2 linked regions of the Homo sapiens genome follow. The protein of the gene in region 1 purifies or fractionates together with the protein of each later gene. This does not show direct contact. Each region holds a gene or a part of one and is shown in the gene's direction. Other genes may lie near its edges.

Region 1 (3,813 bases):
TAAAAAAAAAAAAAAAAAAAAAGAGATCACAAAAGCTCTCTAAGTAGAGTTGAAACCCCTCACTAGGCTTAAGGTGGGGGATCAGGCACTCCAACTCTCCCTTGGGGAGGTAAGGGAATGGAGCTCCCAACACAGCTTTCTTAAAATTGGCTTCTCCACAAAAATTTTCCCTTTTCCCTGTACTCTAACCACCTCTGATCTGAGAACATTTTTTGGATCATTCACCTTGTAAATGCTGCATTTGGTCTGTTTTAGTATACGGCAACTATTGTGCCTTGCTGGAAACCTTAATTTTAATATCTTGTTATGTACACATACAAAGACCGTTAAACTAAAAGGTAGCCTATGTGCTCTGTCAGTGAGTGGAACAGGACTTTAGAAGGTGAGTTCATTCATTCATTCATTCATTCATTTGCTCATTCAGCAAACACCACATTCAAGTGCCAAGCACCAAGCACCAAGCTCAAGGTCTAGCACAGGCTTGTTGTCCTGGAGTCCATGAGTCCCTGGGGATTTCCTAGGTGGGCTTGTAGGTCTGTGACTCACATCCCCCCGGTTACTGTAGCACATTTCAGGAAGGGTTTTCAGAAGTTGGGGGGCTTGGGTTGTCCTTGAAGTTATTTCAAGCAGAGGAGATTTGGGCACTTAGGTTTGGAGGTGGGAAGGCTTGGTATCTTTATGGGACAGTTGAATGGACAGGGTAGGAGGTGTTCATGGAGGGAAGAAGGGGCATATGGGAGGTTAGGTTGCATCTGGATTGTGCAGGGCCTTGGATGCTGGTGCAGGAGTTTGGGCTCTTGGCTCTCGCTGTGTCAATCTCTCCTGGGTGGCAGTAGGGAGTCTCGCTCTATGAGATGAGGTAGGGGCCAAGATCCTCTTTAGGGTCTAGAGGGAGAATGTCTATTTGGGCTTTAGAGGGGAAAACCCTTCTCTTCCAGAAATGGCATCCCCAATCCTCTGTCCCTCCTGGTGCTTAGCTCTAGACAACAAAAGGAAATGCCTTCAGATTTCTGGGATGGGCACCTCCTGGGAAGATAATGAGCTCTGAAACCCCTGGCCTGGACCAGGGAGGCTTGGCCTGAGGTCTTGGAACAGAGTGCTGGCTCCTTCTCTCTGCAGGAAACTACAGTTGCCTCTCCAGTTATCCTCCGTGTGGATCCTAAGGGCTACTACTTATACTGGACGTATCAAAGTAAGGTGAGAAAACCCTTGTGTGCCATGGCCCTGGACTCCTGCTTATCATTGAGGCCAGACAGCCCCCTGGCTGCACCAAGGTGGAGGCATGGATGCTGGGGAGTACAGAATGGCCTGGAAGGGTGGCTCCAGAGGCTCCCCTGTAGGCAGGGGCTCTTTGCTCTGGAAAGGAGGATGCAGTCACTCCAACCTGTGGCTACCCAAATGTTCCATCCTTAGCATCCCTTGGGGAGAGAGAGAGACAGGCGAAAGCACTGCTGCTGAAGGCTGATGCTCTGCCTGTGGCTGTGGGTTGACTTGGGGCTCTGGGAGATGAGAGATAGGCCCCAGCCTCTGGGCAGGAGGACGGGAAGGGGAAGCTGGGAAGGGTCCAGGATGGTGGAGGAGACACTGCAGGCTCCAGCTCCCTGCCAGGGAGGAATGGACAGAGGGAAAGGGAGGAGGATCTGCATGAATAGAGAGAACCTGGGCCATAGGAAGGGAAGTTTGGGTCCAGCTGGCCCTGGGCAGCCTGGCATCTAGAGAGAGGTGTTGGCCAAGATTTGAAGGGTGTGGAAGCTCCCTTCTCCCTATTGCTCATTCTTGACCTGGACTTTTTGTCCCACATCCCTTCTTTGCTCCCACCGGGATCCGCACCCTGCCCCCAGGAGATGGAGTTTCTGGATATCACCAGCATCCGGGATACTCGCTTTGGGAAGTTTGCCAAGATGCCCAAGGTAGGTGTGTCCAGTAGCAGCCCAGGCTCAAGCACAGCTACTAGCTCCATGGGGCAAGGGCAGGGGTCCCTGTGCGGGTGGGAAGCCTGACTTCTGAAGCACGGGGAATGGTTCCTTGGCTGGGCAGCAAGGACCGTGGCTGGAAGCCAAGGAAGGGGAGCGGCAGCTCCTGGGCTCGCCTGGGCTCTGAGCTTCAGAACTGCGCACAGTGAGCTGAGATGGCAGGGATCTGGGAGGAGGGGTCACCTCCTGCCCCTAAAGCACCCCAGTCTGTCTGGGAGGGGTGGCTTACACCCCCACCCCCGGACTAGTTTGCCTATATTTGCCTAATGCTGGTAGGAAAATTGGAGGAAGGGATTGGTGGGAAGCGGGGTTTCCTGAGACTGGGAGCTAAGAATCTATCTTCAAACAAAAGTGGCAACCAACACACACAGGACTCCCAGGCCGGCCTCCCCGCCTGCCCGCCATCTTGGCTAACCTTTTCCTCAGGGCCTCTCCTTCCCATCCCAGCCGCTGGAGTCAGGGACAGGAAGATGCTAAGGCCTGTGGTTCCTGGGATGGGGATGGGGTTCTGCCCAGTGGGCCATAGCCCAAGTGGCTGAGGGGAGGGCCAGAGAGAGCCACACTGGGCAGGGAGGGAGCACACCTCCATCCTAACCATACCACCACGTGCTGCAGAGCCAGAAGCTCCGGGACGTCTTCAACATGGACTTTCCTGATAACAGTTTCCTGCTGAAGACACTCACGGTGGTGTCCGGCCCGGACATGGTGGACCTCACCTTCCACAACTTCGTCTCCTACAAGGAGAACGTGGGCAAGGTGTGCCAGGGAGCACTGGGCCTGGGTCTGGGCCCCTGGGATAGCCTGGACTTCCTGAGAGACACAGGCCTGGGCGGGGGTGCTCAGGAGCCTGACCGCTGCTCTCTGTGGTCCTGCAGGCCTGGGCTGAGGACGTACTGGCCCTAGTCAAACATCCGCTGACGGCCAACGCCTCCCGCAGCACCTTCCTGGACAAGATGTAAGTGCCCTCTGCCTGGCCTGAGCCCTGGTGCTGAGCATGCCAGCCCTGGGCCTTGACGGGCTGCTTTCTGCCCCCAGCCTTGTGAAGCTCAAGATGCAGCTCAACTCTGAAGGGAAGATTCCGGTGAAGAAGTGAGCCCCCCAACCCCTCCCCAGGCTTCCAGGGGCTCCCCAAAGCCTTTCTTTCTCAGGCCTGACTCCTCTCTGTACCTGGTACCTTTCTCTGCCCCTTCAGCTTTTTCCAGATGTTTCCTGCTGACCGCAAGCGGGTGGAAGCTGCTCTCAGTGCCTGCCACCTCCCCAAAGGCAAAGTGAGTGGATCTGCACCCCTGCCCATCCCCCAGCATTCTTGTCCCCACCAGAAAGCAACTTGGCCAGGAATGGTGGGTGGGGGAGCAGAGGTGACATCACAGCCCCAGCCAAGAGCCTGGAGAGCCAATCAACCCTGGAGCTGCTGGTTACTGACACTAGGCACAGGGGTGGAGCCAGGGCAAGGGAGTGAGACCCTGAGCTCCAAGCAGGTTTGTCTGTATCCCCTACCCTGGGTGGTGGGGGCGCTGGGGCTGTGGTTGATGGACTGTGTTCAGGGCAGGCAGCAGAAACGGCATGCATTCCCAGTCTAGTGTTGGGAATGGGAGCTGAGCGTGAATGTTTTCAGCCTGGAGGAGCGAGATAAGGTCGGCAGTGGCAGGCGGCAGTCTGCAGGGATCTGGAAGTCTGCAGCGTGTCGAGGGAGAGGAACTGAACCAAAGGCGGAAGCTGCCAAGATGCAGACTTCTGCTCTGTACAGAAAAGCATTTTTCCCTGTCTTTTTAGTTAAATAATTAATTTTTAATTACAAGTTGTAAGCAGGGTCACCCCATGAAGCAACTTGTGTGAATTA
Region 2 (3,982 bases), on another chromosome or scaffold:
TAGAGAAGGTTACCTGATGAGCAAGCTTCTTTCCCATAATTCAGAGAACTGTGAATGTACTTAGAAATACACTACAGGTCTTCACCAGATGAACTAGATTTTATAATTTTAAAATATAATACTGAAAGCTAGTTTGAAGTTTCAGAAGCCATGAATTATGGGGAAGGAGTAGTTTTTTATTTTATTTTATTTTTCTGATCTCAAGTTGTTTGTCCTGTTGTATGTTCAATACTTGGGGAGATAAGAGCGAGGTACAGCTGTGGTTTTCAGACCATATTCAGTGGTGCCCCTGAGGGTCTCTTGTGAACAGAAGGGAAAAAGAGTGTGATGAAGGTGAACTCTGCCTATCTGAACCTCTGTCAACCTCCAGTCAGAATATCTGGCTTCTAGTATTGTTCCTTTTAACTGGAAGTCTCTGTGGCCATTAAAAACTTGGGAACGTTGGATTAAATGACCACTTTAGGACTTTAAACAGTCTCAAATATGGGAAATTTTATAGCCAACCACGGCTGTGAGTCCCTGGCTTTTGCCGTACTGAGTATGCTCACAGAGATAGGGAGATAGGTGGCCAGAAGACAGGGTCATTTAATTTTAATTGAGCATAAATCATTTTGAAAGAAAAATGCAAGGAATTGTTGTATGACAGCCATGCATTATAGATCCTTACATGCGACATTTTCCTAAAGTGGTTGAGAATGACCTGATCTTTGTTCACCGTCTCAGTGACAAGGCGTGGAGTGACTGGGCTCTTCATATGCAGTGGAATTTTTGCATCTCTAGGTTTGCAGAGGCAGGAGTTACCGTTTTTGTTCATTGACCTATCAGAAAAAAGCAAATCCTTTGGACAATGTTGACACAGACAGGGGTACGGTCTGAGACTCAAGCTAACAGAGCTACCCCTTGCTGCCTTTTGCAAAGGTGTTGTAGGTGGAGAAGGGTAATGGAAACCTGGTACAGCCTTTAGAAGTTGGAAGCTATGGTGGTGTATCTGTCATGAACTGCACACAAGGGAATGCTTAAACACCAGCTGAGTCATATCAGGTGCCTTGTACACACACATAAAGAGTCTGGTGAATTCTGACAGTGTTCTGTTTGCCACTAGAGCAAATTTAATAGCTGGGGTTTCACAGCAACTGTTTTAGAAAACTATATGTGCCAAAAATTTACATTGGGCAGCAGTTTATAGTGTTCTTGGCCAATCTGCATAAAAGCCACTTGAGGAGGTTTGATTAAGAAAATTGTGTTTATCTCCTGTATTACCTCTGTGTTTGATTTATTCTTTAGTCTCAAATTTATTTTCTGAGTGGACTGATTTTCTATATGAACTGAAATGATGTTTTAATAGAATAATAGGTATTTTTAGAGGAAAAGTATTTTTTTGTGTAATTTGCTTACACAACTAGGACATACTTCCTATGATACTGAATCATCAAATTGAGTCATTTAAAGCTGAAAGAGGTGTTAGGAATGTAGTTTCACATTATTTAAATACATGAACAGTTTTCTATATATTTTGTGAAAATCTTGATGAGACACTAGAATTTCTTTATGGAATTGAACTTTACAAGAATTTTAATAAAAGAGGTGGATTTCTTCAGCTTTCTTTGTGCTTCAGTTTCATAGCTGAAAATGCTGCTTCCGTTTATTAATATGGACTTTGTAAGGAAACACAACAACACGTTTTCTTACCTTCTGTAAATTTTGTGATAGACACATGTTATTTGTATATATGATTGATTGTTTGCCTGTTGCACCCTAAAGTTATTTTCAAACCATGTTTATTGCAAAGAGAGCCTTTGGGCAAGTGGAAAATGCCCTGATGCTAGAATGAGGTAGTTCCATAAGCTAGTTAGGAGCTTGCTACCTCTTCTTGGTACCTGAAATATTCTGAAAGGATATCGGAGAGGTCCTATGCACCCCTGTCTTTCAAAACCCACCTCCAGCACTTCAAAGTAGTGTCTCTGGAGAGTTTAAAATAAAAGAATGAATGCTATTCAGTGGATTCCCTCATTGAGGCTCCCATCTTTCCTGCCAGGTGCAGCTTTTTCTGGTTGGAATCATCTCTTCTTTACGGATTGCCGCATTGTCTCTTTGTGAATGAGGCAGGCTGAACTGTAGAGCATGAAACTCATTAGAAGTTTATAAAGTAAAGACCTGTAAAGCATGTGGGTGGAATGTTTCCATGCTCTTGAGGTGAATATTAAATTTAAATTCTGGCCTTTGGGAACTCTTTGCTTGTGAGCTGAAGAAGGAAAGAAGGAGTTGGGGGTGTATATCTAACTGTGTTTTTCTATATGGAAATATATGAGCATCAAGTGATAACTTCAATAAGGCCTCAGGATTGTATTTAAAATACCTGTTTTGTGGGACAGCATGCCTTTGTTTTCTTTGCCTGTTGGCTTTGGTGGCTCCAAACATTTTCATTTTAGGCTAGCTTTCCTGTCACCCAGGTTGTGTGCATTTTTTTTTTCATTTGAACTATTGTTTATCATTATTAATGATGTTATCTCCAAATCCCAAAGCCAAGGAAATAGCCAGTATGCAGGACTTGCAGTAGATATAAGCATTGGTGTTAACATAGGTTAAGTTTTGTTAGTGTTCCCAGAAATATACTGAATTGAGGGATAATGTAGCTTTAAAGAAATTATGTTTCTTTTTAACATTTGGAGAAGCCACCTGTCCTGGGTCCCTATTCTTGAGAAATTCATCTTTTCATGCAAATAACATTGATGGGGGACAAGACTGGATGATTGACTTCTATCAGTCAGTAGACAAGGAAGTATAATAATTGCCAAAGGTGAGGGTAATTTTGCCTTACAAGTATGTAGGTCATTCTGTGGTGGGATTTCCCATCACATCTAGTAAAAAACAACCTTTTCATTTCCCTCCTTTCTAATCCAAGATCATATTTTTAAAAAGTAGGTTTCTGATGTGCCATGAAATATTTCTGTGAATCTGTGTTTTTGACCAAGGAAACAGCTGAGATATTAAACCATGTGGTTGTTCCACGGTTCATCTGGCTACCGTTCTGGGTCCCCTCTGACCACCTCAAAAAGAAAATGAAATTGGGAGATTAAATCAAGCTTGACCTCCTCTTTTAATGAGGAACTTTCACGTTGACTTCCTATCTCAGGATATTCTTCAGTTTCATACTGCTGAGGAGAAAGGAACAAGCTGCAGACACTGTAACTGGTCTCCAGATGTGTGTATATGCGTGTAAAACTTCACACCGTGTGTGTTGTGTTCAATGTTGTGTCAATCTACAAACTGACTCAAACAACAGTTTAACGATAGAGAAGACAGTGATAATGGCAAAAAAAACACCCAACCACCTTTTTCCGTCAAAGTGCTTGCTATGGCTTTCATAGCTGGGACAAGTAACATTAAGTATTCAGGAGCAAAGTGTTCTTGAAAGAAAATGGTGTGTTGATCTCATAAGAAAATGTACAACCAATAAAAGACATTTTAAAAAGCGTAGTGAGTCTGTACATTAATTGAGTTGTTGGAAACCCTATATTCCAGGAACATGGTATAAAAGGCTCTCCCGGTAAAAGCTTTCCTGGACTATATATTCTTGTTATTCTTTCTCTATGCTTTTCCTATTTCTACCACCGCACTTCCCAAACAGACTAGAACAAAACCTAACAACACAACAGTATTGCAGTCGTATTAGTCTGTTTTCATGCTGCTGATAAAAACATAACTGAGACTGTGCAATTAACGAAAGAAAGTGGTTTAATGTACTCACAGTTCCACGTGGCTGGGGAGGCTTCACAATCACAGTGTAAGACGAAAGGCATGTCTCAACATGGTGGTAGACAAGAGGAGAGAGAGAGCCCAGCAAAAGGGTAACCCCTCATAAGACCCTCAAATCTCTTGAGACTTACTCACTCTCATGAGAACAGTATGAGGGAAACTGCCTCCATGATTCAATTATCTCCCACTGGGTCCCTCCCACAACACATGGGAATTATGGGAGCTA

The links.
Region 2: the proteins of PLCB2 (region 1) and MAP2K6 purify together in Homo sapiens (affinity purification with western blotting, with the first as the bait; one study listed by BioGRID). This does not show direct contact.

The regions. Positions count from the first base shown.
Region 1 is NC_000015.10:40,301,385-40,305,197, reverse strand, and holds part of PLCB2 (1-phosphatidylinositol 4,5-bisphosphate phosphodiesterase beta-2), read left to right. Parts: intron 1-1,119; coding exon 1,120-1,197; intron 1,198-1,841; coding exon 1,842-1,910; intron 1,911-2,588; coding exon 2,589-2,729; intron 2,730-2,848; coding exon 2,849-2,928; intron 2,929-3,008; coding exon 3,009-3,062; intron 3,063-3,165; coding exon 3,166-3,241; intron 3,242-3,588; coding exon of another isoform or gene 3,589-3,606; exon of another isoform or gene 3,607-3,813. UniProt on the Homo sapiens protein: The production of the second messenger molecules diacylglycerol (DAG) and inositol 1,4,5-trisphosphate (IP3) is mediated by activated phosphatidylinositol-specific phospholipase C enzymes.
Region 2 is NC_000017.11:69,550,389-69,554,370, forward strand, and holds the end of MAP2K6 (dual specificity mitogen-activated protein kinase kinase 6), read left to right. Parts: 3' UTR 1-3,477; downstream 3,478-3,982. UniProt on the Homo sapiens protein: Dual specificity protein kinase which acts as an essential component of the MAP kinase signal transduction pathway.